Linked DNA regions of Homo sapiens: regions 1 and 3 are each linked to region 2. The links come from fine-mapping of genetic effects on gene expression. A gene starts in region 2. Each other region holds a variant in brackets. All regions are shown on one strand. Distances are between the middles of the regions.

The links. PIP is the estimated chance that this variant, and not a neighbour inherited with it, causes the effect.
Region 1: its variant is fine-mapped to the expression of ENPP4 in whole blood (GTEx, PIP above 0.99). The same link has a PIP of 0.9 or more in esophagus mucosa.
Region 3: its variant is fine-mapped to the expression of ENPP4 in tibial artery (GTEx, PIP above 0.99).

The regions. Positions count from the first base shown.
Region 1 is chr6:46,170,997-46,181,612 of GRCh38, reverse strand. No RefSeq gene overlaps it. Among named protein-coding and RNA genes, the nearest start is that of ENPP5, 5.3 kb to the right of the region's middle. RefSeq lists a silencer at 10,402-10,461. The variant C/T (reference allele first, on the strand shown) is at 4,625.
Region 2 is chr6:46,125,519-46,136,134 of GRCh38, reverse strand. ENPP4 (ectonucleotide pyrophosphatase/phosphodiesterase 4) reads right to left here and starts at 6,146. Exons shown (of 4, transcript NM_014936.5): 1 at 5,946-6,146. It also overlaps a transcript of CLIC5 not described here.
Region 3 is chr6:46,212,246-46,222,861 of GRCh38, reverse strand. It overlaps RCAN2 (regulator of calcineurin 2), which reads left to right. Exons shown (of 5, transcript NM_001251974.2): 5 at 1-2,126. LOC105375079 (a long non-coding RNA gene) reads right to left here and starts at 3,557. Exons shown (of 5, transcript XR_001743802.3): 1 at 3,512-3,557. The variant C/T (reference allele first, on the strand shown) is at 5,056.

The DNA of each region.
Region 1 (10,616 bases), 45 kb before region 2:
TTATAAAGCAAATTGTTTATGATAAAGGAACCAAAGCAATTTAAAAGCAAATAAAATACCTTTTAAAAATTGTACTGGAACAATTGGCTATTAAAAAATTTTTTCTTTAACTTAGACTCCTATTTGCACTTACACTCTATTTCACACCACACACAAGAACTAATTTTAAATGGCGGAAAGATCTGTGGATAGGAGTTTGAGAATCTTGAAAGATAGTCTATAGCAATAAGCATCTGCCCAAGATAGTCTATAGGAATAAGCATCTGCCTTCAGGCATTAGACCCTCACTTATCCTTAACTGGATCAGGATAACTTAGCTTAGGCTAGGACCTGGCCTTCAGCCCTTCCCCACTACTTATTAAAACATTTAAAGAGAAATCTAAATTAAAAATCCAAAATAATAATGCAATTTAAAACTACCTCAAAAAATCCAAAAATCTTTAAGATATACCATTTGAAACAAAAGTGTTAAAAGAGATAGAACAAGAATTTTATGTAAACATGATAAATATACTTAAAGAGATGTAACAAGCTATTAGTAATATGAAGAAGAATAAAAAATCATTAAAAATGAAAATATATGAGGTATAATAGCTGAAAAACTACACCAAAGGTGGGATAAAGAAAGGATAGAAACAGCTAAAGAATAAATTTGTGAATTAGAAAATCAGACAAAGAGGCAATCTCTCGGCAATCAGAAGAATAAAGAGATAGAAGATATACAAGTAAGCATATTCCTCTCTGTTCCCATTATGTAGTATCAACCCTCTCCCCTCAAGAAAAGCAGGTTACTTACCCCAACATTACTATAACTCCCTTCTGATCCACTGGCATGAGGAGTCCAAGATGGCCAGGTGGTAGACCCAGCTTCAAATTCAGTAGAATCCTCACTTTGCTGGTGGAGACATAGCCCTTACTGGGAACGATGTTCTCTAACCTAACAGAGCCTAAGGTTAGAAGACAGGAAGAACAAATTTCACAAATAGGTCACTGGGGATGATCATGTAGGGATCACTTCTATTTCCTTGGTTACCAGACCTGTTTTCTAACCATTAAGGATAGAGCATCATGTATCAGTCCTTATTTCAATGCATATACCCCAAAATTGAGGATCATGCTCTAACCTTCAGAATGTGTTCTCGGAGAGGGCCACTTAGCTGAGCCTTTAAGCCCATTGCATCATTCAGCTAGGCCAGCTGCTTCTGGGTGATGGGATATATGGTGGAACCAGTGAATCCTGTAATCATTGTTGTATGTCCTTTGCAGCAAAATTGGTCCCCTATTTGAGGAAATGTTGTGAGATCCCATATTGATAGATCAGGCATGCTGAAGTGTTGAATCATACTTGGTGTAGATGTAACCTCTGGTAAGGACAAATTGCTGCTGTTTTCCTCAATTGAGGGGTTAGCATCAGTCTCTGAGGCTGACATTCAGCACTGGCTAGATAAGCCCTTTGTGAACTGAATCCCATTCTGTTAGGTGTTTGCATACTTCTATTCCTGCCACCGTTGAATGCCAAATTGCACTGGTACTGCAATAACCAGGAAGAAATGTTGGCTGACATCCACAGGTTTACTCATCCTGTCCACCTGATGGTTGAGATCCCCTTCTGCAAAAGAGGCTTGCTGGGCATCACCACAAGACAGACAGATCTGCATGCTTGGTGCCCACCAACTATAGGGCCCACATATCTCTTTCCCCTGCCTCCTTGTCCTCACTCTTCCCATTCTGGTCCTTCCAGGCCCTGAACAAACTAGCCAAATCATTCGCCACTACCTATTGCTACCTAAGGTCACTTTTCCTTCCATACAAAGTGGACAATCAAGTGTGCTGCTCGAAGCTCTGCCCAAAGCTCTATATAGAGATTTTATACAAGTGATAAAGAAGATTATGGGAGGTAGCCTAAAACCCCTCCCAAGACAGTCCTGTGACCACCACTGTTCCTCTCTAAACTAATACTATTTCTTCAAAGCATTCATTAGTAGTGGAATCTCCTAAAAGAAAAAAGCCCATAGCAGCTTAGAGGGAAATGAAAATAGGGTGAACTGGGAAGGCAGAATGTTATTGAGCATTCAGACATTGGAGGGATAACTCTTCCCCAAACAAAAATGAGACCTTCAAAAAGCATCAATTTAGTGTTTGATTTAATACAATTTTCTTCCATTTGTAATGATTTCATGTGCATTTGTGTCATCTCTTTAAGCAGTGTTTCCATCCCTTTGGAGTCAGGAAGTATATCTTACTCCTCCCTGTATCCACCTTTCTCAGTTCCCATCACAGGGCTAGGATCACAGCAGCTACTCACCTTAGTATTAAATAGTTTGGAATTGACTGATCCTCACTTAGGCAGTCCAGGGCTCTCTCTCTCAATTCTGTCATGATCATGCTGCCTTGACTATTGATGCCCATGCTTCCTCCTATAAACCACCCTTCAAGGTTTTCAAATCCCTACTCATGAGTCTGTCTACCTTTTATTTCAATACTGAGCAGCCATCCTCAACCAAGGTCATTTTAATACCAAGGTCCATGTCCATCACAGGGGTGCCCATCTCTGGATGGCAACTCCAGTCTTGTTTGCTTGTCTCTCTCACACCATTTCTGTTTACTGACTGTTGAAGGAAGAGGCTGCGAGAGCTCCCTATCCCCACATGGCCTGATAATAGAAATGAGTTATTCCACTGGCTGTCAAAATACTAAATCTTCCCTTCATGGATCCAAAACTGGGCTTAGACACTCCTCTACTGTGCTCTCCACTGTTCAGATTCTACCATTGAGGACCTCCTGGAGAATCTGGAATCCCCAACTCTGACATGAAGTCCACAGACTACTTGTCAGTAACCCCCAGGGCATGGTTTCTATGGACCTAAGTTTGTGTCAGTCCGAAGATCAACTTTGTCCCCAGAATGTCTCTCTCGTGTTCCCCTCTGGGTCTTACTGAGATTAATGAGCAGTCCAGTTCTGCTATTTACTAGTTGAGTGATCTTCAGTGAGTTAATCTCTCTGGGATTTTCTTTCCTGAGCTGGCATAGGAAAAGACTCATTTGTATTTCACAGGGTTATGATAAGAACTAAGTGACATAAGGAGTATGTGTTGCTTTGCACAGTGTCTGCTATTTGGTTGCCACTAATTAATAAGCATTGTTATTATAATTCTAGTAATATTGTTATGTACTCCTTTCATACTATAATACCTTCACCACCCATACAGACCATTTTTCTGGCTTTAAAATTGTTTCTCTGCCACCCATCTCTTTTCTACTCTTCCTACTCCTACATACAGTTGTTTAGTGGAGTTGATTTGTTATCATTTTTTTCAATGAAATTATACTACACACTCTGGCAAGTTTTGAAATGCCCCTCCAACATTTTCCCTTGTCTTGCACACCATCCCCTTCACTATTCACTTTGTGATTAACAAAATATTACAAAAAAAGTATAGTATATGACAATGATGTCACCTCTCAAAATGACCAGAAAGTATACATTCATTCACACTAACATGTCTATTTTTTCTGACTCACAGGGCTGTGTTTTAATGACAGATTCATATCCCAAAATTGGGGTAACACCAAAAACACAACCTAATAAGCTATGCCACACAGTGCATTAGGAACAGGCTAATAGATGTTGCCAAGAAGAAACAAGAAGAGAAATGCTCACTGCCTCTCAATATGCAGTAAACAAAAAGCCAAAGTGCTTTACATTTTTCAGTAGAAAGGTCATAAGAATGGGTTAGCCTTGGTATGGTATGACAACTGGTAGTTCCTGCCAAAGGAGATAGTCAAAGAAGCAACGTTAATTTTAATATCAATTACAGATTGATATTAAATAAATGTCAAGGTGCTAAACTACTGTGCCACCTCGCACCACTTGTGATTCAGGAATTATGTTCGTGGCTCTGGTCATGACATGCCCCTCCTCAAGAACCTTCAACTGCCCCCCACTGCCCACAGGACTGACCCCAAATTCCTAAACCAGTTTTTCTAGGCCCTTCACAAGCACACCTGGGCCCTCTGACCAGGTGCATGTTCTTACAGTCTTCTCTGTTTCACGTGCTTCGTTGAAATCCCACCATCTTCCAAGGCTCTGCTTCAATACCAGACTCTCCATTCCTACCTCTGTGGTGGAATACCCATGTCTTCTTCAGTCAGAGCTAATTTCTCTGTCCCATGCACTTCTATATCACTTTTGTTTGTTCCTCTGTTGTAGAACTTACTCTATTTTTCCCTGATTTCAAATGTTTAGATATGCAGCTTTGGTTAAGCCACCAATTCTCACTGAGCATAGTGTGCGGCCATGAGAAATGAACTCAGTAATGCTGTTGACCATCTTCAAAATGGATTTCAAAAACCAGCAGCACAATATGAGTGTAAAATAGAATCATGACTCAATGATTACCCTGTGAATAAATGAACATTTCAGTGATTCCACAGATGATCATTCTCAGTTACATCACTTGGTTGAAACAGGCCAATGAGGCCTTAAAATGCCAGTTAACCCTGAATTGTATAATTCAAATCGATAAATTTATATTAAATGAATCACATTTCATTTTATGTTAAGCAAATCACGAATAAACCTGTTTTGTTTTTTTAAAAAATAACAGGTTAAAATCCCAGCTACT[C/T]GGGAGGCTGAGGCAGGAGAATCGCTTGAACCTGGGAGGCAGAGGTTGCAGTGAGCTGAGATCTCGCTACTGCAGTCCAGCCTGGGCAACAGAGGGAGACTCCATCTCAAAAATAAAATAAAATAAAATAACGGGTTAAATCAGCCTGTTATTTTAAAACAGCCCCATCACCATGACTAGAACAGCTAACTCTGGCCAAAGAACCCCAACATGTAGTATGTCCTAGCAAGAATAGATGAGTAGATCAGCATAAATCCATTCACACTGAATGGATTTTCCTACAAAATAGGGTTCTCATTAGAAAGCAGAGAAGTATATAGGTCAGGAGATTGCCCAAGCAAGGTGTGGGAGGATGGAGTCCTTTGTGGAATCAGACAACAGGTGTGGAGGAGTAAGGATGAAAGTGACTAGAAGAATAGCAAAGCTCTCAAGGATTTTATACATTACATGCATTTTCTAGATGAAAGGCTATTCAAAATTTTACAAAGGTCAAATCAGAGCACCTTCATAAGCCAGGTTCCTCTGTTGCCTATGACTTCGGACTTCCCTACAGTGATCTGCTGCTTAATGATGGGCAAAGAACAGGACTAGCTTTGAGCAAATTATGAGGGATGCCAGCTTAGAGTCTGCTCCCCTTCCTTTTTCTGTTTTCACTTTCCTCTAGAGCTGCCCCCTGTATTTACTAACCTTTGAAAGACAGAACCCACCTGCATTCTTCTAAGGGCTTTTCTCCCCAACCAATTATGCAAATTGGAGCGAATCAGACAACCTTAGTCACACACGTGTATATAAATAGCTAATAGAGGTGGTGCATATGACATCTCTCCTGAGAGAAAAGCCTTAAGGCTAAGAGATTAATTTCCAATTATGAAATTGCAACCATCCAGGAATTGGGCAGGGAGAACTCTCCCATGACATCCCCCGCCCCTTCCCTGCCAAGAACACCTTAAAGGCATAAAGCACTTGCTGCCTGCTTGGCCTGTTCATAAAGATTCACACTTACCAAAGAATTCCTTGGTGCAACCTCAAGCTACAAAATTGTTGCAAAGAATATTTACATTTACATTTTAAGTGCAAATACCTAGAGTGGAAAAATGTATTTTTGATCTGGATAGAGGACAATATTTTTAGGTCCTCCCCCACTGCTAGTAAATTTACAGAATTACAATACCCATAAGGAGCCAATAAGTTTTTAAATAGTGATGTTAAACTAAGTATGTTCAGGCATCTAAGGGGTGTTATGTGCTTTACAAAGAACTGAGAATGTGGTTTTAACAAAATGTTTTCACCCCATATACCACAAACACATGTGCAGTTTCGTATTTGGCTCCTGAGAATATGTCTTACAAAATAGGCCTCAAACCAACACCAAAAGATGACTATCTCTCCTGCTATATGACTGCATCCTGCACTGAGTTAGTTATTCAACAAATGACATTCAGTTATGGCCTAGAAAATATTTGTAGTAGAGACGGGGTTTTACCATGTTGGCCAGGCTGGTCTCGAACTCCTGACTTTGTGATTCGCAAAATATAAAAATTTAGCCTGGTGTGGTGGCGCGTGTCCGTAATCCCAGCTACTCGGGAGGTTGAGGCAGGAGAATTGCTTGAATCTGGGAGGCAGAGGTTGCAGTGAGCCAAGATCACACCACGGCACTCCAGCCTGGGCGACAGAGCAAGACTCTATCCCAAAAAAAAAAAAAAAGAAAAGAAAAAGAAAAAGAAAGAAAGAAAGAAAAGAAAAAGAAAATAATTGTTTAGCCTTGTTTTGGTTTTACTTCATAGTTTCCTGACTTCATTCATGAGGGAAAAGGAATGACACCCAGCAGAGCAGGCCCCGTGGAGCTCCTGCACTTGCAAGCACTCACACCCTGCAGGAAGAACTGGTATACACCCGTACACACAGGAAAGGCCACTGAGAGTCAAACACCACCAGCACCAATTTGTGAACTTTGGTGAGGTGTGAGGTATTATCGCAGGGTAGGGTTTATTTATTGTTGCTGCTGTTTACTGAGGTATAATTTCCACACAGTAAAATTAAACATTTTTAGGCACATAGTTCTCTGAATATTGACAAACTTAGTGATGTGACTACAAAAGCAATCAAAATTCTATCACATAAAAAAATTCTTTGTGCCCCTTTCTAGCCAATCCCCTCCCCTCACCCCTAGTCCTTGGCAAATGCTGATTTGGTTTCTATTTCCATTGTTGCCCTTTCTAGAATATCATATAAACAGAATCACACAGTGTATGGCCATTTGTGTCTGGCTTCGTTCACCTAGAAAAACGCTTTTGAGATTCATCCATGTTGTTGCATGCATGAGTTCTGTATTCCTTCTTACTGCCAAACAGTACTGCATTTACGGACACACTACAATTTGTTTATTCACTAGTTGAGGGACATTTGGATGGTTTCTAGCTTTACATGATTATGAATAAAGCTGCTGTAAAAAGTTGTTGACCGGTTTTTCAGTGGACGTCTGTCTTCATTTCTCTTAGATAAATACTCAGGAGTGAGATTCCTGGGTTGTATGTCACGTGTATATTTAACTTTATAAGAAACTTCAAAACTGACTTCCATAGTGGAAGTCCATTCCCACCAGCAGTGTATGATAGTCCAGCAATATATTATAGCTCTGAATCCTTGTCAGTATCAGATGTTGTCAGTTACCTTGATTTGAGCCATTTTATTAGTAATCCATCAACTTTTGATCTAGGCTGGGCCATAAAATTAAACTTTCTGCTAGCTATATATACTGGGTTGAATAAGTGTCCTTCCGAAATACACATTCACCCGGAACCTCAGAATGTGACCTTATTTGGAAGTAGGATCTTTGCATATGTAATTAAATTTAGATGAAGCCATACTGGGCTGAAGAGGGCCTTAATCCCAATGACTGGTGTTCTTATAAGAAGGCCACGTGACACAGGGACACACAGAGTAGAGCATCCTGTGACAGGAGAGGCAGAGATTGGAGCTAGGCTGCAGCAAGCCAAGGAATACCAGAATCCCCAGCAGCTGTTAGGGCCAAGCAAGGATTCTTCTCAGAGTCTCGGAGAGAGCATGGCCCTGAATACATCTTGATTTCAGACTTCTGACCTCCAGAACTATGTGAGAATACATTTCTGTTTGTCGTAAGTCACCCAGTTTGTGATAATTTGTTAAGGCAGTCCTAGAACTAAAACACTATGAATACAATTTACAGAATACAACAATACAAATAGGTTTATATTTGACTTATATAAAGCTTTCTGAGGATAAAAGCATAATAATTGCTTCTACAAAATTCATTCTAATTAGTTCAAGCATATCACTAGAAGCCTAATTTATTAATATGCATAAAAATTCTTGGGCTAAGTTTTTGACTATTCTATAATTCAACATTTCACTCATTGGACTGAACTTCTGCTAATGAGTCAAGATTAGTGAAGACCACTGTTTATCATGAATTAAGAGCAGTGCAGAAGCAGAATCCCAGTGGTTCCTATCTATGGCCATTGAATATGTGAGACCCACATTTTGCAGAATGTTCTACAAAGGATTAAAAGATGAACTTTCTTTTAGTTTAGTCATTTGTGGTATAATGTACTGGAATGCACCTTTAAAATTTTTTAATTGTAAAATTATGTGTTTATTTTTCCTATCATGAAGTCTAGTTCTGAAAAACAAGACTTCTGTGGTAGAGCCAGTTCTGGTTGTTTCTTAAAGAACAGATCCCTTTTCAGTTTTAGCACAAAGCTCTTCCAGCCCCTGACGAAGAAAATTGTCCCTCTCTCAACCTGTATTAGACTTCCTTGGGGAGGCAGAGGGATCTCCCTCCCCACCTGACCCCAAAACCTTTGAAAGAAAGAAGTTGGTTATTCTGTTACACTATTATTCAATTAGAATTCCACTAATTTAATAACAGAGAATAAAAGAATAGTTACAGTCAATAGCAGGTTGTGGTTTCTGCTGCTAAAACTTTCTGAAAACCTATTGCAAATAGACAGATACTGAGGCAACAATAAGACAGGAGGGCAGGTGCAGATGTGGGAGCAGGAATCTCATGTTTTACATTCATTCCTCTATACTATGTAAACCAGACTTTCTCCCCATGAACAACATAAGGTAATAGCAAGCCTATCAGGTGAACATTAGATATCATTATATGGACTTCTGGGAGGAATCTGGCAGTCTTATGAGCACTTTTCTGTGTTGTGCACTGTGGTTACCAGCTGTACCATGCCTATTTCACAGGAATAGCTGGTGAATATAATCATAACTTCCATAAAATTTGCAGAGCAAAGCAGGTTGTCATCCAAACAGAGTCCAACAATGTTCAGTGATCCGAACAAAAGTCAGGCCCATTTTCACCACTCCTGCTCTCTGATAAGCGTACATTGTCCTTTGAGTGTTTTGGGAGAGCACAGAGTTGACCTATTCTGGGGGACAAGGACTTACAAGATTGGACCACTCTGTTCCAAGTTTGGGCAATTTCAAAGGACAGGGCTTTGGGGAATTGGAACAACTTGTTCAACTTCATTGTGTTTGGGTCTCACTAAACATAGAAACCAGCCTCCCTCTTAATCCCCATCCCACGTGTTGAAAACCATAAACTCAAGTTACCACGAATAAAAGGCCATGGAAGAGTGCCCAGATGCCCTTCGGGATGGGATGACCCAGTTAGGAGGTAACAATGTTTGGGGTTGAGATTGTCCCTCTATTAGAAGCAGACAGAGAAAAAGCTATGACCAAAATGTTTGCATGGCTTAATTAAATATCAACAGATATCTCTATTCACTTTAAAGCTCCAGCACACCAGACAAGGGATCCGAGCTCCGGGCAGGAGCCAAAACCACCATTGCAGATATGCTCCCAGTTTTACCAGCTAATTAGATGTTAAACTTACATTGTAACAATCAACCTGATATTATTGCCTACTGCAGATAGAACTAGAATTCTAATTAGGTCAGAATTCTAGCTGGGATTGTGTAGATGGACAAATTCTTTCAGGGTAGTTTGATATCACTGCTATAATTTATGGTAAAGACAGTTGGGATCATACTGGCAAACTAAGTACCTGCCTACACTCCCTCAGGCCTAAAAATGCCATTGATTATCCCAAAAAAACTGAGAAAATAATCCACTACAGTACGGAAAAAGACAAAATAGGGGCACTAACACACAAGAAGCACTGAAGGCTTTCTGAAAGAGTAATCAGGCCTGATGTTTGTAGTTTTAATGTTTACTTTGCAAACAAAGGTAGAAACAGAGTCTGGAGCTCGGATGCCACCACCAGAGAGGGTGGCTGTTCAGCCTCTCTCCTGTGCAAATTAACCTAATTCTGAACCTGTCTTGGTTTAATTCGCACAATTTCAGGTGCCATGCTAGGTACACCACAAATATACCTCAGGGACCTCAATTGCAAAAACCTGGACTGCAAACGTTGGGGCTGCAGAGTTGACTAGGTTAATAAATTCTTTCTGAGGTAAAGCAGATAACACCCACTAATAAAAAGAATGAAACTTCATCGTCCCATTGGCATCCTCGGGTGTGCAGGTGTTCCTCAGAGCAAAGCCCATGGTGTGCCCCATCGCCAATTCGTGACAAGGCAGGGGGCGGGGGGCGGGGGAAGGAAAAAAGCCTGGGATAAGAAATCAGAGAATACAAGTCGCTTTTAAACAAAAAACAGTGACTGTTAGAGTACACCCACCATTGGGGTAACACGCAATAATCTCTCAGCATCACTGACTCCAGCACAGCTGGTCCCCTGGAAAAGGCACGTTGCCGGAAGGTTTTGTGTGTGACCAAGCAATTGGCCATCCCACGCCTTCGCCCTACCAGATGGGTCCCTGCCCCCGGGAGTCCCCTCCCCCTCCACCCTCCAAACCCAGGCAGCGCCCGCCCCTGCCCCCGCTGATTGACAGGCCGTGCAGCTACTCCTGGGAGCCTGGCTTTCGGGGGCAACCCAGGCAGAAGTGACTATCTCTGCAGCAGCCAATAGAAGCCAGGA
Region 2 (10,616 bases):
ACTTAAATCAGCAAATAGGTGGCACAGTATCTTCTCACGGGGAAAAATACTCATAAATTTATGAGTACATATTTGTAACAGTGTGTTTGAGATTCATACACCATAATGTATTATTTTAAAAGCTAAGGTGTTAGAGAAATTACTACAAATGGAATATCACAGTATGTCCAAAAATTTTCCAGTAGATTTACCTCTAAGAGCAGAGGGGTGCCAAGACAATTCAACAAATGGTAGAGGGACAACTGGATATCCACATGCAAAAGAAATTGAAGCCCTGCCTCATACCATACACAAAAACTCATTCAAAGTAGATCACAGACCTAGATTAATAGCTAAAACTGTAAAACTCTTAAAAGAAAATGTAGGAGTAAATGTGGGAGTACATTTTTGTAACCCTGGGTTCAACAGAGCCTTCTTAGATACCACACCAAGAGCACAAGTGACCAAAAAAGAGAAATAAACTGGACTTCAAAATTAAAAAGTCTCGTGCCTCAAAGGATACCATCAAGAAAGTGAAAAGACAACCCAGAGAATGGAAGAAAATATTTGCAAATCATATATCTGAAGAGATTTGTATCTAGACTATATAAAGAATTGCTACAACTCAATAATAAAAGTCAGATAATCCAGTCAAAAAATGAGCATGAGCTGAAAAAGATATTTCTCCAAAGAAGACACAAATGACAAATTAGCACATGAAAAGATGCTCAACAGCATTAGTCATCAGAGAAATGCAATCAAACCCACAATAAGGTACCATTTCACACCCCGAAGGATGAGTAAATAAAATAGATAACAACAAGTGTTGATAGAGAAATTGAAACCTTTATAAACTGCTACTGGAAATGTGAAATGGTACAGCCACTTTGGAAAATATTCTGGCAGTCTTCAAAGGGTTAAACATAGGGCTACCATATAACCCAGCAATTCTACTATTAGGTATGTGCTCAAGAGAAATGAAAACATATGTCCACACAAAAACTTGTACACAAATGTTCACAGCAGCATTATTTGTAAGAATCAAGTGGAAACATCTCAATGTGCACTAACTTATGAATGGATAAATAAAATGTAATATATCCATATAATGAAATATTATTTGACACAAAAAGGAAGGAAGTGCTAACACATTTTATAACCTGGATAAATACGCTAAATGTAAGAACGCAGTCACAAAAAATCACTTATTATATGATTCCATTTAGATAAAATGTCTAGAACAGGCAAATCTATAGAGACTAAAAGTAACTATAGTAACTATCTAGGGCCAGGGGTTGGGGGGGAAATGGGTAATAAATGCCAGTAAGTATAAAGTTTATTTTTGGGGTTATGAAAATGTTTTCAAATTGATTGTGATGACAGTTGCACAGCTCCATAAAGCAGTACTCTTAAAATGAGTGAATTGAATGGTGTGTGATTTATATCTCAATAAAATATTATTTTTTAAAAAAGAGCAGAGGGAAGTGAAATTGTAATCTGAAATGTCCTGCCACAAAACAGGAAACATTTTTGATCTCATTTTACCTCAAAAAAGTGAATTTTATACTCCAAAATACACACTTGAGTGTTTTAATGTGAAAGTTTTATACCACTTCCCATGTGCAAAACAGACCAAAAACCTGTGTCCGTCCTCTCCCACAAAACACAAATCAAAATGCTTCTTCCTCAAATCTTGAGTTAAAAGGATGCTCCAGGAACACATGCTGTTAATCCTGTGGCTCAGTAATCCCTCAGCACACTGCTGGGATCCAAGCGTCCCAGTCCTTGTTCTCAGGATAAGTAGTACAGACAAAGTGGAAAGACTATAGACTGAAGTCAGAAGGGTCCCAGAACCTGAACTCACAATTAGTAGATGGGTGATCTTGGGTAGATCCAACTTTTCTTGGCTTCTGTTTCCTTGTGTGTAAAATGAGGATGTGTAAAGGTTACAGAATAGGCCCTCAAAATTAGTTTCCCTTTATCATTCTAGTTACAAAGATGTTGGGAAAAAAAACAAGACTGTACTATGATAGGCAGAATATTATTGTGAAACTATAAAATACATTAGGAATAATTTAGTCTCATCTCTTCGCATATGATGACCTTGCATATGACTTTGCTTATGATGAAGCTAAAGTCCAGTGATTAGCCGGGCTCAGAAAGCAATCAGTTGCTTCACTGTGTTCTTACTAATTTCATGTCCTCAATAAGTTTACAAGTCCAGTAATAGCAAGTTAACAAGTCTGATAATAATCTCCAAACTATTAACAGAACTCTTCCTGATAGAACACCTTTTATTAGCAGTGCCGGATCCATGTCTGCCACATTCTGTCTCATTCTAATAGGGAGTGTTAAGCTACAGACAAACCAACAATGAGAAGTTCTCAAGCAGTTTCCAAGGAATGAAAATAAAGTTTGCAGGGAATGAAACTGTTACAGTATAAAACATTGAGAGAAATTCTGTAATTTTTCACACCAAAAAGATGTCAAAGAGAAGAAAAAAAGCAGACCTCTCTGGACTGCAACCAAATATCCCTACAACAAATGGAAGTATGAGTTAGTCTTCAATTCAGGGGACAAACTACCTTCTAATTTCTCTGGGAAGACGTTCTTCCCTGGATGGAATGCAGTCAACTCTCACTGGCATTCCTAGCCCATGTGAAGCCAAGAGAGTATAAACCATTACAGGATATGGTGAAAGATATTTGTCACTATTAGCACGCCATCTGCTCTGTAATACAATGAAACTCTCATACACCTTTAAAAACTTTATTCTATGACTATAAATAAGGCAGTTATCTTTAGATTATTATCAGTTGCTTTCTTATAGTCTAAGGAAAAAAATATACTCCTTAAAAATTCCTTAGTCTTAAAAATCGTAGGATTCTAAATTATTCTCCAATTTTGTAAAATACACAGAAATTTCTAGCATACACAAAGTTTTCTAGCAGCTTCAAAACACTTACACTTATCTTACTTTCTACATAGTAAAATACCTCCCTCCATTACTCCTTGTCCTTTCATCAAAATTTCTTCCAAATTAAGTCAAATTGTCCCTGTTTGCAGACGACATGATTGTATATCTAGAAAACCCCATTGTCTCAGCCCAGAATCTCCTTAAGCTGATAAGCAACTTCAGCAAAGTCTCAGGATACAAAATCAATGTGCAAAAATCACAAGCATTCTTATACATCAACAACAGACAAACAGCCAAATCATGAGTGAACTCCCATTCACAATTGCTTCAAAGAGAATAAAATACCTAGGAATCCAACTTACAAGGGATGTGAAGGACCTCTTCAAGGAGAACTACAAACCACTGCTCAAGGAAATAAAAGAGGATACAAACAAATGGAAGAACATTCCATGCTCATGGGTAGGAAGAATCAATATCGTGAAAATGGCCATAATGCCCAAGGTATTTATAGATTCAATGCCATCCCCATCAAGCTACCAATGACTTTCTTCACAGAATTGGAAAAAACTACTTTAAAGTTCATATGGAACCAAAAAAGAGCCCGCATCGCCAAGTCAATCCTTAGCCAAAAGAACAAAGCTGGAGGCATCACACTACCTGACTTCAAACGATACTACAAGTCCACAGTAACCAAAACAGCATGGTACTGGTACCAAAACAGAGATATAGATCAATGGAACAGAACAGAGCCCTCAGAAATAACGCCGCATATCTACAACTATCTAATCTTTGATAAACCTGAGAAAAACAAGCAATGGGGAAAGTATTCCCTATTTCATAAATGGTGCTGGGAAAACTGGCTAGCCATATGTAGAAAGCTGAAACTGGATCCCTTCCTTACACCTTATACAACAATCAATTCAAGATGGATTAAAGACTTAAACGTTAGACCTAAAACCATAAAAACCCTAGAAGAAAACCTAGGCATTACCATTCAGGACATAGGCATGGGCAAGGACTTCATGTCTAAAACACCAAAAGCAACGGCAACAAAAGCCAAAATTGACAAATGGGATCTAATTAAACTAAAGAGCTTCTGCACAGCAAAAGAAACTACCATCAGAGTGAACAGGCAACCTACAAAATGGGAGAAAATTTTCACAATCTACTCATCTGAAAAAGGGCTAATATCCAGAATCTACAATGAATTCAAACAAATTTACAAGAAAAAAACAACCCCATCAAAAAGTGGGCGAAGGACATGAACAGACACTTCTCAAAAGAAGACATTTATGCAGCCAAAAAACACATGAAAAAATGCTCACCATCACTGGCCATCAGAGAAGTGCAAATCAAAACCACAATGAGATATCATCTCACACCAGTTAGAATGGCAATCATTAAAAAGTCAGGACACAACAGGTGCTGGAGAGGATGTGGAGAAATAGGAACACTTTTACACTGTTGGTGGGACTGTAAACTAGTTCAACCATTGTGGAAGTCAGTGTGGCGATTCCTCAGGGATCTAGAACTAGAAATACCATTTGACCCAGCCATCCCATTACTGGGTATATACCCAAAGGACTATAAATCATGCTGCTATAAAGACACATGCACACATATGTTCATTGCAGCATTATTCACAATAGCAAAGACTTGGAACCAAGCCAAATGTCCAACAATGATAGACTGGATTAAGAAAATGTGGCACATATACACCATGGAATACTATGCAGCCATAAAAAATGATGAGTTCATGTCCTTTGTAGGGACATGGATGAAATTGGAAATCCATTCTCAGTAAACTATCGCAAGAACAAAAAACCAAACACTGCATATTCTCACTCATAGGTGGGAATTGAACAATGAGAACACATGGACACAGGAAGGGGAACATCACACTCTGGGGACTGTTGTGGGGTGGGGGGAAGGGGGAGGGATGGCATTGGGAGATATACCTAATGCTAGATGATGGGTTAGTGGGTGCAGCGCACCAGCATGGCACATATATACATATGTAACTAACCTGCACATTGTGCACATGTACCCTAAAACTTAAGGTATAATAATAATAATTAATAAATAAATAAATCTAAGACCTGAGACCATAAAAAAAAATGTCTTCCAAATTATATCCTGTAACTAATTTAAGTGGAGGTGGGGGGAAGACGCACAAGTGCAGCAGGCCTCTTAATTTCCTTAAAACAGATTGAAACAATCTCTGAGGGGAAAAAAGAAGAAATAGAAGCTCATAATACTGAAACCAGCAGTTGATATTTCACAGTAGTTGGCAAATCTTCCTTCAGACTTGGGTCCACAAGATTGCCTGATTAAGCAAAGCCCTTCTGGAGTCAGATCTGGTGTAAACCTGAATCTGCCTGTCACTAGTTGTACAATCTTGGTTGGACGCGTCCCTTCACTTCTCTGAGCCTGACTTTCGTCATCTGTAAAATGGGAATGCTATGATCTCATAGGGTGGTTGTGACAAGAAAAGGAAGCATTGTTTTTAAGTCCTTACGTGCTTTTAATCCAGCCCTTTAAAAAGGCACTTAAATGTACCTTTTATTGTTTGGTTGGCTTGTTTTCCAGGAAATTAGTTCTTAAATATCATTATCTATAATTAACATAAACTCTAATCTAATATTCAGACAGACGGATGTCGATGCCATGGGTGGTTCTCCTTTAAAACCAAAAGCCTGGCGACCCCGCCCCAGCTCCCCTCAATTTTACCCCAGACCCACCTTAGGTTCCTCCACTACCGTTCGGCTGACTTCCCTCCCTTCACACTTAACACCACAGGTTGCCTTCCCCAGCACCTGCTAATTTTTCTTTCCTCTTCCCTTCCTGGCCTCCGCCTCGGCCCGCCACCTCCCTGGCTCTTTGAGTCCCTTCGTGGACGTCCCCGCCGCGCCCCAGGGGATGTGCGTGTAGTGGGGGAGAGTGGGTCATAGGGTCTGGTCTCACCATCTCTATTTTCAAAGCCCCTAGGGGACTGGAGAGGGGGTGACATTGCCCCCCAGAACGCCGAGCGCGCGAGGCGCGTACTCACCAGCCGCCGCGGTCGCTTCTTTCCAATGCGCGGAACTCGGCGCTCGCGGCACCTGGCACTCGTGGGAAGTTGCGGGGAAGGGGGACCTGGAGGAAGAGGGGCGATGCCGAGCTCTTCCTGAGGCGCCTGCGCAGTGGCAGGCGCCGCGCCGCGGGGCACAGCCCCAACGTCCCTATCTGCGCCGCTCGGGGCGCTCCGAGTGTGCGCAGCTGCCAGGCGAGCGTCTAAGGCGCCAGCTCAGGGCTGGCTGGGACCGGGCAGCAGAGTCTGAAACACGTCCTTGGATTGGATGCTAGAACCAGCGTTGAATGTAACTTTCTTTCCGATTGGTTAGACAGGTGCTTGGAGGGGTTGTATCGGACCTAAGAGTAGAGGTTGATTCCACTCTCCCACCACGCACTTTTCGTATCATCCTAGATCTGGATGCCCTTCATGGAACCTAAAAACCAGCGAGTCCCGGAAAGGCCTCAGGCAATTGCCAAGCCGATGGCCTTCTGCCACTTAGTTAATGTGCACCTGGCAGCTTAGGTGGCCGCGGAGAAAGCAACTTTGGCTGCACCAAGGTCCGGCACAAGTCTGGAGAAGCTTCAGCCAGTTCCAGTGAGTTGGGATAAATGAAACGTGGATCTACCATAGACGTCTGTCCGTCTTACTGGATAAGCGAGCACCTTTACCGGGGAAGTTAGGTAATAGTTTACAAGTAAGGTTAAAAGCAGCACAGTGCCTGCGGCAGGGAACCAGTAATGAGTTACAGCTGAGAAATGGGTGCTTACTTTGACAGACGCGTATGTGGGATTGTGCTCCTGCTTTTAATTGGAAGGTTATTTAATAGAATAATGTAACTAAACTTTCCAACATAAAGAGCAGTTACCAAACAGAAGTAGAATTATTCGCTAACAGTTGGGTTGTCCAGGCACACTTGGCAGTGAGAGGATAGCATCTTTTTTCTTTTTATCTGTAGTGCCAAACAGAACTTGGTATAGAAGTACTTGCTAAATCACTATTGAATTTAATTGTCCCGCTTGTTAAAATGCAGGCTCCAGAAGGTATTTTCTTTCTTGTTCACTACTGTATCTCCAGCTCAAATAAAAAGTACAAATAAATTAAGAATATTAATCACATGTGATATCCTCAAGTGTTAAGTATTTAATAGCTGTAAATCCAGTACCTGGATTAGTAAACTGCAGTACTGGACCTTAGATAACAAATTCTGACGTTGGTCCCCTTGGTCTGAACCTTACAGTATAGCTATTACCAACAATCTGGAAGCAGCCATGGAGATGATTTGGCAATAGATGTATTCCGTTGATTATTAGTTTGTGCCTTGATAAATTAATTCCAGTTTTAAGTCTCAGGTTGGCCTGTGCATTGGTGAATATGGGCATCTTAGATCCATGGGCTTTCAGAGCTGGAGGGGATGGTAGTGGGTCTGTAGCTGAATCCCTAGAACCTGCAGACCCTAGAACCTGGTTTGAATACTCACTCTGTCACTCACCAGCAGAGCAATCATGGGCCAGTGTCTCAACCTATTTGAGCTTTCATTTCCTCATCTGCAAAACGCGTCTTGTTACAATACCAACCTCTTACTATCAAATGAATGAGGAAAGCGAGTAGAGTATTCAGCACAGTATCTGACACATGTTGTTTTGGGGATTATTATCATTATGACCAAAAAAGTACCCCAATTTGAACAATAGTCAGGGTAAGGCCAAGTTTTGGGGGAATTTAGGTAATGTCCAATGACATAACATTTAAGATTAGCAGAACTTAAATTTTGTGGCATTTGGGGGTATTGTGCATATCCTGTTTGTTCATTCAGTAGGTGCATATGTATGCTTAAAGGGTGGACAAAACTGAATGCCATCTAGGTCAGATGTGTGGTGAAGATAGCAGCTGGATGGGCATCAGGAGAGGACTCTCTTTATCCACTGCTACTGCCTGTGTGGCTGGGTTAAATTAGGGAGTCTCATGCCACCTGGGCTCTTGCTCTGTAAGATAAAGTGGTCAGGAACAGAGGGACAAAATGACACATAAGGACCTTTGGCCCTAAACTTTTGTTATCCTCTATATATTTACCATTTCAACCACAACCAAAATCCTGTTATAGTAAGGATATTTATCGTCTTGTGGAACAAGAAGTCCAGAGGTAAGGCAGACTTCAGGACTGGTTGAGTTAGCAACTCAACGATTTCATAATGTACTCAGTTCTTTGCAGCTTTACACTTGGCTTTTAACAGAGTAGACTTCTGGTTCCTTTAGTGGTAAATATAACTACCAGCAGCAACAGGAACCATGTAATTCATTTTTCACTTCCACTGGGTGATAGAAATGACGTCTAGATTTCTTCTGTCTCTTAGAAGTCTTCAGCAACTGTCTCCTTTAATCACTTTGGACAGAATTGTGTCACATATCCAAATCTAAGCCAGCAAAGGATATGGTTACCTGTAGACCAATGCAGTCCACATCTTAAACTGAGGTCTCACCCAAACTTTACTTTTTTTCTCAATGGAAATGAGTTGGAATGGGTGCTGGGAAGCCGGCCACAAAGTTCACTATAGTTTCATTGTAGAACTTTAATGATAATAAAAGAAAACATAATAGTAACATAAATTTCTTATTTACAATGTGATTTTTAGGCATAAGTGTTGTTTTATTTAGGTAGGCAAAATAATATTCATTTATAATGTTCTTTCAGCTCAGCTTTTGCAAAGGGAATTTTATATAAATTTTGGAAATATAGAGAGCCTTTAAACCCATTTTATGTTAGAGATTGAAATGAATTAGAGGCAATAGTCTAAACTTATTATTTACAAATGAATATACCCCACAGAGAAATGACTGAGCAAACATACAGTTAGATAGAAGAAATATATTCTAATGTTTGATAGGAGAGTAGGGTGACTATAGTTAAATGTATTTTATATTTCAAAATAGCTAGAAGACAGGACTTGAAATGTTCCCATCACATAGAAATGATAAATACTCGAGGTAATGGATACCCTAAATACCCTGACTGGATTGTTACACGTTCAATGCATGTAACAAAATATCACATCTGCCCTATAAATGTATAGAAATATTATTTATCAATACACAAAAACTAAGTACAACTAGAGCATTTGCCTCTATGGGGCAATGTCAGATTTGGAAGCAGCATGTCAAAGGCAGTTTCTTTTTCTCCCATGAACTACGCTCAAGACTGAACATTTATTCATTAACACAAAATATTTTAAAAATCTTATCCTGTTTTCAAAATTTAAGACATAGCTCTCTATACAATTATTTCTCTTTTATACTCCTAATTGTGATGTATAACTCATTGCTGGCCAGGAGAAGGTCAGAAGTTAGAAGTTACAGGAAGAAGGTTTCAGAGCAAAAGCCACACGCTTCCCAAAGAAAAACAATTCCTGTCCACTGCTCAGTTCTAATTAAACAACAACACAACTGAAACTAAATAATTGAATGTCAAGGAGAGTATTTAAGGTTCACTTTTTAATATAAATTAGATGTTTAAGTAATACAGATTTTATCTTAAATATAACAGGGGAAAAGGACCTTATGAATCATTGCATTTTAGTGATTTTGAAAGTTCCTTTGGTGAAAACTTTTCACCTACTCCATTTTCAGTAAGATTATATTGGAATAATCTCAATCAAGTTAAGATTGTAAAATATTTTTAAGTGCTCCTTTAAAAAATGATTCTGTATTAACCACCATGAACTATTGTGTTAGACCTTCACTCTAAAGGAATTTTTTCAAATATTTAATAAAGCTGTGAAAGAATCAGTATAAATTCTTTTGAGGCTTTCCTATGTGGAGAGCAATGTGCTCAATTTTTCAAAAGATACAAAAATAAGTAAGATTAATTCCTTGCCCTCAAGGTGCCTCTAATCTAAGAAAATGAATGGAGAGGACATTACTCTCTTGCTTTTGCCTGCCCAGCATTCATTCCTCCTCCTTCTGGCAATTCCTCCAAGAGACAAACCCACCTTCATTCTTTGACTATGGGAGTCAGATGGGGCTGACTGTTAATTCCCCTCATCCACGGGGCAGACTCCTAAGGTGCCAGCTATCTTGGTTTGTCCCAAATGGAAGAGGTTCCTGGGACATGGGATTTTTAATCCTAAAATCAGAAAAGCAACAAGCAAATCGGGGTGAGTTGGTCACCCTAAGCCTGACTCAAACTTGGCCTTTTGGAGCCAATTTTACTCCATTAACCACATGAATTAGTTCAGTGATGGGGACATGCCTCAGTCCAGGCCATAAAGACTCAATTCTGAAACTTTTGTTGAAATAATTGGGAAAGAGTCCCTGTTTCAGCAACAATTGCTAAATAGGTAGAGTATAAGCTTACCTATTTGGCAATTGTTGATAATCTACCTATTTAGCAATCACTGAAGCTGCTGGTGGCCATCATTGTCACTGTAAAGGGAAAGTCTACCTGAGAAGAAAGCAAAGCCAAGAGCTGGAGTCCAACACGTGATGACATTGAGCACGTGGGTCCAAGTTAACCTGAAGCTCCATCCTTGGACTTTTCACTTTACATGACTCAGTAAATTATCTTTTTGCTTAAACTATTTTTTTAACTTTTTAAAAATATATATATATATTTTAATTATACTTTAAGTTCTAAGGTACATGTGCACAACGTGCAAGTTTGTTACATATGTA
Region 3 (10,616 bases), 87 kb before region 2:
TTGATCCAAGCCAGAGACATCAGTAACAAATAGCACCTGTGTTGTTTGTGAGCTGTTTCAGTCCCAGTCCTGATGTGTGTGCGTTGTTCTCTCCTGGCCACTTAAATAGGACCATATGTAAACTTGACTTTGACTGCATGAGATATCCCTATCTGGTCTCACTCAGTCCTCTGCATCCCAACATTCCCAGGACATGCATGATCACCAGCATTTATTTTCATTATTTGAGGATATCTTATAACTCACAGATTGTCAGCATCCAGCCATGTCCTATCTAGATTAGGAAAATGATCAGAATATTCCAGCTCAACAAGTCTGGGTATATTCACTATTGTGAGTCAATACACCATAGCTCTGTTGAAATTCCTGGAGGCAAAATTGACCTTGGCCCCAAAGATATTCCTCAATAGATTTCAAACACCACTCCCCTGTAGAACTCTCCCAGCCTCGTTGGGGAGGCTTGTCCAGGGTGATAGAGACTGATTTCAGACAAACCTATTTATTACAAAAGTTTCATGGTGTCTGAATGATTGTTTTCTCTCTTTGTATATTTGTACAAATGTTTCAGCTGTGCTTTTAAAAAATCTGGATGTTTTTTATTTAGTGATTGTTCGACAATTAGCTGCTTCAAAACATAATGTGCATTGCTTATGAATGCCTTCATATACTAATACAGATACTCTGATAATATTACACTCTAATAAGGATAATGCTGAATTTTGAAAGGACACAAAACATCTAATGCCAATATATACATGATTAGCCAACATCTTTGCTATCAAGACCACTTGTTTTTAAATAAAGATGCAAGTGTCAGTTGTAGATTATTGGGATGAAGCTAAATCCCCAGAATGCAGCAGCAGCTGAGCATGTTAAAATGGGGAAGGATGATAGCTACATGTATGCCGGTCCTACTCACGCGACACCCGTGTGCTCAAAAAAGTTATTTGTTTTTGTTACGTGTGATTTTTCTATTTCTCTAGCCCAAAGTGCATTACAGAAGATACACCTATAGAACCATTACCTTCTGCTATGTGTGCCAGGCCTCATCTACTCCTGTACATTAATGAATTACTTTAGATGCAAACGCAGATTACAATGGAGTGGGGAAGTACTTTCATTACCCAAGCCTCAGAAAAACACACAAGAACAATAACACAGCAAACAGATTGAGGGATTGTTGTGGTTTTTGACTAAGGTGTATGTTAGTTTCATCAGAAACTTAAAACATAGACTGATCACTCAGAAATTAAAGTCCGTTTTACTGTGAATATAGCAATATAGTACTGGACACAGTACTGGTGAAACTGAGGAGAGCATTGCTTGTAAAATCCTGAGTTTCCATAAGGAAAATGAAAACTCCTTTTAAAAATAAAATCTGAGGAGTGTACAATAAGCATATGCTTTGACTTTCCTTTGCTGTGGAGGTTTTTGGTTTTTCATTGATGATAAACGACTACAGACTTAGTAGTGGAGAAATGGTGTCCTCTAGTGGAAGAAATAGTAGGCTCCGCTATTCAGATGCAGAGCACTGCAGCATCCAGCCTTTCAAAGCTGACTCTTCTCAATCATCTGTGGGTCATTTGACTTGATTTTTTAAGCTACCCTGAATTTCCAGAATGCAGGTTCTAAAGAAATCTAGATGAGAGAAAGTATTTGAAAATGATTTTTAAATGTTTTTTAAAAGACACATCTGACATTTTTAACAACTTAGTAAAAGTTGAAATGACCATTCTGTGTAGTCATAAAAGAAACACAATGAAGTGTATGGCCTCTGGAGTTAGTCTTAGTAAAACTTATTGCTCTGTGTCAATGTTAACCTGTCTCAGATCAAGTAATTCTTTCACTAGGTTGGGTTTGGGGAGGGGGGAAAAGAGGGGCTTTTCCTAGGAGAACGATAAGAAATGGAAAGACTCCTTGAAGTGTTGCAAGGGAACCTCCTAGCACTGTGAAAGTCAGAATCGCCTCAGCATTTCCATGACGCACATTATGCAAATCTCTTTAGCACTATTTTAAGTTTGAAAACTTTAACAATGAAGGGGAAGGGGAAGATTTCCACCAACTGAATCATTTGTGCACGTGTATAGCTCAAAGAGCTTAGACTTCAAATATATCTGGTGAATGACTCTTTGTCCATGTGGTTTAATTTCTGTGTTGTCGACCTGAGTTGAATATTCTTGAGGGGTAATTGTGGGGGACTGCATTTCAACCTAGAGTTTTTCTAAGAAGTCCCCAACGTATGGGGTTAACCCATATACCTAGGCTCTTCCTGAAAGTGGGGGAAGCTGGTTGGCAGCCCTCTCTTGGGGGAAGGGGAATTTGAGCAGGGCCTGGAGGGCAGGGTTGGCCTCTGATAAGAGGAACTGGGAGAGCTCCCTGTTTTATTGCCATGTTTCAACATCTTGGTCCTAAAAGCCATTTCAAGTGTACTAAAAACCTCTTTTAATGTCTTCCCACTCTATTCTCTTGTTAAAAGCACTATAAGAGACCTGAGTTAGCAAAAAAATTATTATTCAGGAGAAAAGCACTATCATAATCTAAATGATTAATACATTAAATGCCATTAAAATGAAGAGCTTCTGTTCATCAGATGGGTATTAGGAGAATGAAAAGGGACAGCATCAGACTGGAAAAGGATATTTGAGACACATGTAGTTGTAAAATAAATTATATCCAAAATGTAAAAAGAAAACCCTACAAATAAGGAAAACAGACAATCCATTTCTTTGATCATCAAAAAATTTCAAAGGCACTTCATACAGGCAATTCACATACACACAGACATACACAAAATACCCAGATGACCCATTAGCATTCAAAAGATGCTCAATTTTATTGCTTATCTGACAAAAGCAAATGATAATCTCAGAGCTACTACACAGATCTATCAGAATGACTAAAATTAAGTCTGGAGAAATAAAAAGTTCTGGTAAGGATATGAAGGAAGGGGAACTGTCATGCACCACTGGTGGAGTGTCAACTGGTGCTCACTTCACAGCACTGTTTGGTAATATCTGCTAAAGCTAACATGCCTCTGGGAGCAATTCACTCCAGGGCATGCACCTAGCAGATACAAGTGCACACATCTATCAAAATACTTGTACAATAATGTCCCTAGCAAAGTTGTTCATCATAGCCATTAACTGGATACAGCCCAAATGTCCTTCAACTATAGAATAAACTGTGCTATCCTCACACAAAGGAATGTCACAAAGCAATAAGACACATAAACTAGTGGTACATATATGAACATGAATAGATCGCAAAATCATATTTTGAGCAAAAAAGAAAAACTAGACATGAAAAAAATACATAGTATATGACTCCTTTTAGCAAGCTAAGAAAGTCAAAACTGGCCTATATAAATAGAAATAATAGTGGCTATTATGAAAACACTTAGGACTGTAAGGTCCCCCAACACCACCCCCAAACTAAAAAAAGTGCTAAGAGTCCAAAGAAGGACTCAGACCTAAGTCCAGCATGAGGAGTAGATGAGTTTATTAGGACTTACATACGGGGCACTCTGGGATGGCGGCAGGATAGCTCTGGAGATCTGCCCCACCTCCCATCCATAAACTGCTTTTAAGCTAATTTCCTGGCTCTTTGCCTACGTGTTTGAACAATGAGACTGTTTTTCTTGGTAGTTCCTCAGAAACTCTCTGGGAGGTTTGGCTTCTCAGGGACACCTGCTCCTCAGCTCGGCACCAGGGTCTTGGCTCACTGTCCGGCCCTCAGAGTTCAGGCAACAGACTTATACCCTTCGGTAACCTGTTGGGGGACCTGTCACAGTACAGTGGCTACCTTTTGAATGGTACTGCCTGAGAGGAACCCTCTCATGTGGAAGCCTTCCAATGTGCCATCAATATTCTACATCTCGATCCTGATCTCCATATGGATGTATACCCATGTAAAATTCAGTTAAAATGTGTGCCATATACTACAGTAAGTTATACCTCAACTAAAACAAAAGCTGTTCTCCCTGAGGACAGAGAAGAAGGAGCCATTAGTTGTGATGGGGGTTTAGAATGTCCTCATACTAAAAACGTACGTCTCCCATCTCATGTCTGTGAGATATTTCCATATTTTCAAAGCCTTCATTTAAAAATCTATAAATAAGTGTTCCTTTTTAAATGAGAGAGCACAGGACTTAGGCTCTGGGTGAAACACTGTTCATTCAAGTAACAAACTGTGTGCCTGACACTGGGTTTTCAGTGGTGAACAAGGTAGCTTTTGTCCCTGCCATTTCAGGGAGTGGAGTCTAGCATGGAAAAGAGATAAGAAATAAACAAGCAAATAATGGCCACAAATTCTCATAGGTAAGTACAGTGAAGAAAACCAAAAGTACTCTATGAGAATAGAGAATAAAAGTGGAGGATCATAGTCAGGGAAGGCCTCTCTAAAGAGGTAACATTTAAGCCGACCTGGAGGCACTGGCCATGGAAATGCTGCGAGAAAAGCATTCCAGGCAGCAGGGCTGAAGGCTGTGACTCTGGAAAGGCCTTGTCTTGTCGTGTTGGAGGAGCCTGAAGGATTTTGTTGGTATGGCTGAGGCACAGGGAGTGAGGGTGAGCACAGTTTAGGATGAGGTTGGAAGGCAGGTGGCGGAGGAAGGCAGGCTCAGTAGAACCTATTATTAATAGGCCAGGCTAGGGGGTTTGAGTTCATTTTAAGGGTTTCAAAAAGGGAATTATATGACCCAATTCATTGGTAAATCCTAACACAAACAAGAAGTTTCCTAATACAAAGCTACAGCCCAAAATGTCCAGATCCTCTGTAGCACTGGGGCTTGACGGGTCTTGCCCACATTAGGCTTGAAGATAGCTTTTGATAGCCTCGTGCTCCTCACTGCAATCCTATCTATTAACACCAGAAGAATTCTCAATATCCAACATCAATATGCAGTGTCTTGTGGTTCTAAAGTTTTTTTTTACTTCCCCTCCCCACGTCATTTAGAAAGCCTCAATGCAGAAAAAGGGGAACAGAGCAGGTGATAAAGGATGATAAGTCAGTCAGTGATTCAGGGAAACATTCATTTAGCTGCTGGTACAGAGTGTC[C/T]CTGCCAGAAGCCACCACGCTGAGCGTCATTGAACATTTGGCAGCCTTTCCCCTTAAATTTATGCAATCTGAGAAAGGGAAAATTTCAAGCAAAAAGTTTTCTGTCAAGCTCATTCATCTGCACCTTTCAAAGAAAGTCTGGGCAAATGTTTTTGGAGTTGATTCATGAGCTTTTTATGTCTCTAAAAGGAAGCCATATTTAAGGTTAGTCGTGTGTATGTGTACGCAAGCACATTTGGTACAGGTTGGAAATAGGAAATCCAAAATAGGCAGAAATGGATGAAACACTTTGTGCTAAAAAATTCATCCACAATACCTCCTTGGTGCTTTTGTGTTATTTTCCATTCTCAACCAATAATTGAGTTAGAAAACTTTTAGGGTTGGACAGGACTATGGGGCCTCCTTGACTAGTTGCTATCATTAGGAAAATCATTACTGTTCCCCAAACAATCTTTGGATTTGCCAGTAGGGTATTTTATTCTTAAAACAAGATTTATAGTTTCCGTACAAAGCTGCCAAGTTCAACACCTTGATAATCCATCTGATGTGCTGTTGTGGATGCTGTAGTCCCAGTTCCCCACTTCAGAGTCCCAGCTCCCCACTTCAGAGTCCCAGCTCCCCACTTCAGAGTGGAAACACTCATGCCCCCAGATGTTAGGAAGGTTGGTGGGTCATGACTCGCTGCTGAGTGGCCAGGCATTGCACTCAGCTGGAGAGATGCTCCCCACCCAAGGTCTCACCCTCCTCAGGGACAGCCTGCATCCAGTGACTAGTCAAGGAAGGCCTTCCCTTGGGCCACTCCAGCTCCAGAGCTATCCCTGTGGGATAGGCTGAGGCCCGGTATTTCAGTTCAACTCTGCCTTTATCCCCAACAGGTAAGGACTCTAAAGTCTCCCTAGTAAACCTCCTGCATGTACATCTCCCTCTCAGAGTCTAAGTCCTAGAAAAACTAACCTGACACTTACATCATCCTCAATAGCTTCTTCCATCACTTTGAGCGCCCCGGAATTGTACAACTCTTTTCCATCAATCGCTGCTGTTTCATTCTTAAGATGGATTGGTTATGCTAGGGGTTAGCATATTTTCCAAAAGCAGTGCAGCAAAGTTCTTCATGCTTTCTTTGTGCTGTCCTGCTGAGTTCAGGTCAGGGGTAGGTAGGGTAGACGTGCAGGTGACTTGGCACAAAGTTCCTCAGTGGAGAAAGGAGGGCTTCTCTCAACCATCCCTGTGGAGTGAGGAGGACAATGGATGCCTGTTCAGCTGTTGTCAGGAGCCTTCATGAAAAACACGGGTCTATAACAGGGAGGGTAGAACCCAAATTCTGGCCCATGTGCCACCCTCAGGCCACCTCAAAAGATGTCACCACCTCCCTGTCAACCTTGTATATGAGAAAGGGATGAAGATTGTGCAAGCGACTTTAGACAAGTTACTATAGTCCCTACAACTCAGTTTCCTCTCCTGTAAAATGGGCATAAAAATCCACTTTTGTCATGAGGACTTAATAAGATAATAACAGTAACAATTATTATTGGAGGGCCGGTTAATAACTACATTCACAAGTTTTGCTGCCACAAGACCTAGGTTTAAACCCCAGCTCTGCTGCTTGGTAAACTTGTGGTCTTGGACAGTTTTTTTAAACCTAAGTTTTGGTTTCCACATTTATCAAAAGTAAAGGATGATAGTATCTGTCTCAGAGAGTTAGGAGGGATTGAATGAGAAAGAGTATCAAGTGCTGGGTACATAGGAAGTCCTCACCCAGAGCTCTTTATGCATCAGGCCCCACACAGAGCACCTGGCATTTGTACCCTCAGTCTTCATGATGGCACCTTCACTGTTTCCATTCTTCAGAAAGAATAGTCAGCATTTTTTGAGTGCTTACACCGTGTCAAGAGCTCTTAAAAGTTCTTTACATTCTTTTTTTTTTTTTTTTTTTTGAGACGGACTTTTGTTCTTGTTGCCCAGGCTGGAGTGCAATGGTGTGATCTCAGCTCACCGCAACCTCCGCCTCCCAGGTTCAAGAGATTTTCCTGCCTCAGCCTCCCCAAGTAGCTGGGATTACAGGCATGTGCCACCATGCCCAGCTAATTTTATATTTTTTAGAAGAAATGGGGTTTCACCATGTTGGTCAGGCTGCTCTTGAACTCCCAACTTCAGGTGATCCGCCCTCCTCGGCCTCCGGAACTGCTGCGATTACAGGCTTGAGCCACTGCACCTGGCCAAGTTCTTTACATTCTTATTTAATTCTCTCTATGCTCTTATGATGAAGGCACTGATACCCACATTTTACATGTAAGGCAACTAAAGCCCAGAAAAGCTAAGTCCTTGGTACTCAAAGCATGTTCTACGCACTGCAGCATCTGCATCTGCATCCCGGGAGTATCTGCATCCCCCGTGGAGCTGGTTAGAGACGCAGAGTCTCAAGCGCCACCCCTGGCCTACTGAAACAGAATCTGCCTTTTAACAAGATCCTCCCTTGATTCCCAGTACTTTAAAGTTTAAGAAGCACTCAAGATCAACCGCCTAATATATCCCCAGCAGGGCTATGATTGCAGAGCACATACTTTTAACTGCCTCTGTGTATGAAATGCCCATCAAAAAAAAGTGCTCAAAGCATATAATTTTCCTTCCCCCAGCAATTCATTTGACTGAGCTTCCTCCTCTGTTCCTGTCCACAGTCCATTCTTACCCACTGTGCTGGCCTTGCTGTTTTCGATAGAATCTCCAGGTATTGCTGCTATGCTCCAGGTTCTGATAAACTTCCGCCCAGGGTCATTCCAAATATCTCTATTAAAAGTGCTTCTGAATAAGCTACAATGTGATTTCCAGAAAGGCAATTATTCCAGGAGTACACCAGTGTTCTGAGAATAGCCACTCCTAGCTTTACTGGGAGTAACAGGATGGTCTCAGACAGGCATTAGTGCCAGAAGCTGCCATGTGGATAATCTTTCCCTGAGAATGAAGGCAATCAGGAGAAAAGAAGAGCTGAAATGCTGAAAGAGAAGAAGAGGGATGGGAAGTGAGTTTAATGTTATTATTTGAGTGCCTAGACCAAACTATACCTGATACTCATATCCCCTGGACTTTTCAGATGCCTGAAGCAACAGATTTTCCTCTTCCTCAAACAAGCTTAAGTGGGGTTTCTTCACTCTCCACTGAGTGGCTGACTGAAAAATAAAGAAAACATAATATTTCTGTGGGATCGGTGGTGATATCCCCTTTATCATTTTTTATTGTGTCTATTTGATTCTTCTCTCTTTTTTTCTTTATTAGTCTTGCTAGCGGTCTATCAATTTTGTTGATCCTTTCAAAAAACCAGCTCCTGGATTCATGAATTTTTTGAAGCATTTTTTTGTGTCTCTATTTCCTTCAGATCTGCTCTGATTTTAGTTATTTCTTGCCTTCTGCTAGCTTTTGAATGTGTTTGCTCTTGCTTTTCTAGTTCTTTTAATTGTGATGTTAGGGTGTCAATTTTGGATCTTTCCTGCTTTCTCTTGTGGGCATTTAGTGGTATAAATTTCCCTCTACACACTGCTTTGAATGCGTCCCAGAGATTCTGGTATGTTGTGTCTTTGTTCTCGTTGGTTTCAAAGAACATCTTTATTTCTGCCTTCATTTCGTTATGTACCCAGTAGTCATTCAGGAGCAGGTTGTTCAGTTTCCATGTAGTTGAGCGGTTTTGAGTGAGATTCTTAATCCTGAGTTCTAGTTTGATTGCACTGTGGTCTGAGAGATAGTTTGTTATAATTTCTGTTCTTTTACATTTGCTGAGGAGAGCTTTACTTCCAACTATGTGGTCAATTTTGGAATAGGTGTGGTGTGGTGCTGAAAAAAATGTATATTCTGTTGATTTGGGGTGGAGAGTTCTGTAGATGTCTATTAGGTCTGCTTGGTGCAGAGCTGAGTTCAATTCCTGGGTATCCTTGTTGACTTTCTGTCTCGTTGATCTGTCTAATGTTGACAGTGGGGTGTTAAAGTCTCCCATTATTAATGTGTGGGAGTCTAAGTCTCTTTGTAGGTCACTCAGGACTTGCTTTATGAATCTGGGTGCTCCTGTATTGGGTGCATATATATTTAGGATAGTTAGCTCTTCTTGGTGAATTGATCCCTTTACCATTATGTAATGGCCTACAAAGCTGGAGGCATCACACTACCTGACTTCAAACTATACTACAAGGCTACAGTAACCAAAACAGCATGGTACTGGTACCAAAACAGAGATATACATCAATGGAACAGAACAGAGCCCTCAGAAATAATGCCGCATATCTACAACTGTCTGATCTTTGACAAACCTGAGAAAAACAAGCAATGGGGAAAGGTTTCCCTATTTCATAAATGGTGCTGGGAAAACTGGCTAGCCATATGTAGAAAGCTGAAACTGGATCCCTTCCTTACACCTTATACAAAAATCAATTCAAGATGGATTAAAGACTTAAACGTTAGACCTAAAACCATAAAAACTCTAGAAGAAAACCTAGGCATCACCATTCAGGACATAGGCATGGGCAAGGACTTCATGTCCAAAACACCAAAAGCAATGGCAACAAAAGCCAAAATTGACAAATGGGATCTAATTAAACTAAAGAGCTTCTGCACAGCAAAAGAAACTACCATCAGAGTGAACAGGCAACCTACAAAATGGGAGAAAATTTTCGCAACCTACTCATCTGACAAAGGGCTAATATCCAGAATCTACAATGAACTCAAACAAATTTACAAGAATAAAACAAACAACCCCATCAAAAAGTGGGCGAAGGACATGAACAGACACTTCTCAAAAGAAGACATTTATGCAACCAAAAAACACATGAAAAAATGCTCACCATCACTGGCCATCAGAGAAATGCAAATCAAAACCACAATGAGATACCATCTCACACCAGTTAGAATGGCAATCATTAAAAAGTCAGGAAACAACAGGTGCTGGAGAGGATGTGGAGAAATAGGAACACTTTTACACTGTTGGTGGGACTGTAAACTAGTTCAACCATTGCGGAATTCAGTGTGGCGATTCCTCAGGGATCTAGAACTAGAAATACCATTTGACCCAGCCATCCCATTACTGGGTATATACCCAAAGGACTATAAATCTTGCTGCTATAAAGACACATGCACATGTATGTTTATTGCGGCACTATTCACAATAGCAAAGACTTGGAACCAACCCAAATGTCCAACAATGATAGACTGGATTAAGAAAATGTGGCACATATACACCATGGAATACTATGTAGCCATAAAAAATGATGAGTTCATGTCCTTTGTAGGGACATGGATGAAATTGGAAATCATCATTCTCAGTAAACTCTCGCAAGAACAAAAAACCAAACACCGCATATTCTCACTCATAGGTGGGAATTGAACAATGAGATCACATGGACATAGGAAGGGGAACATCACACTCTGGGGACTGTGGTGGGGTGGGGGGAGGGGGGAGGGATAGCATTTGGAGATATACCTAATGCTAGATGACGAGTTAGTGGGTGTAGCGCACCAGCATGGTACATGTATACATATGTAACTAACTTGCACAATGTGCACATGTACCCTAAAACTTGAAG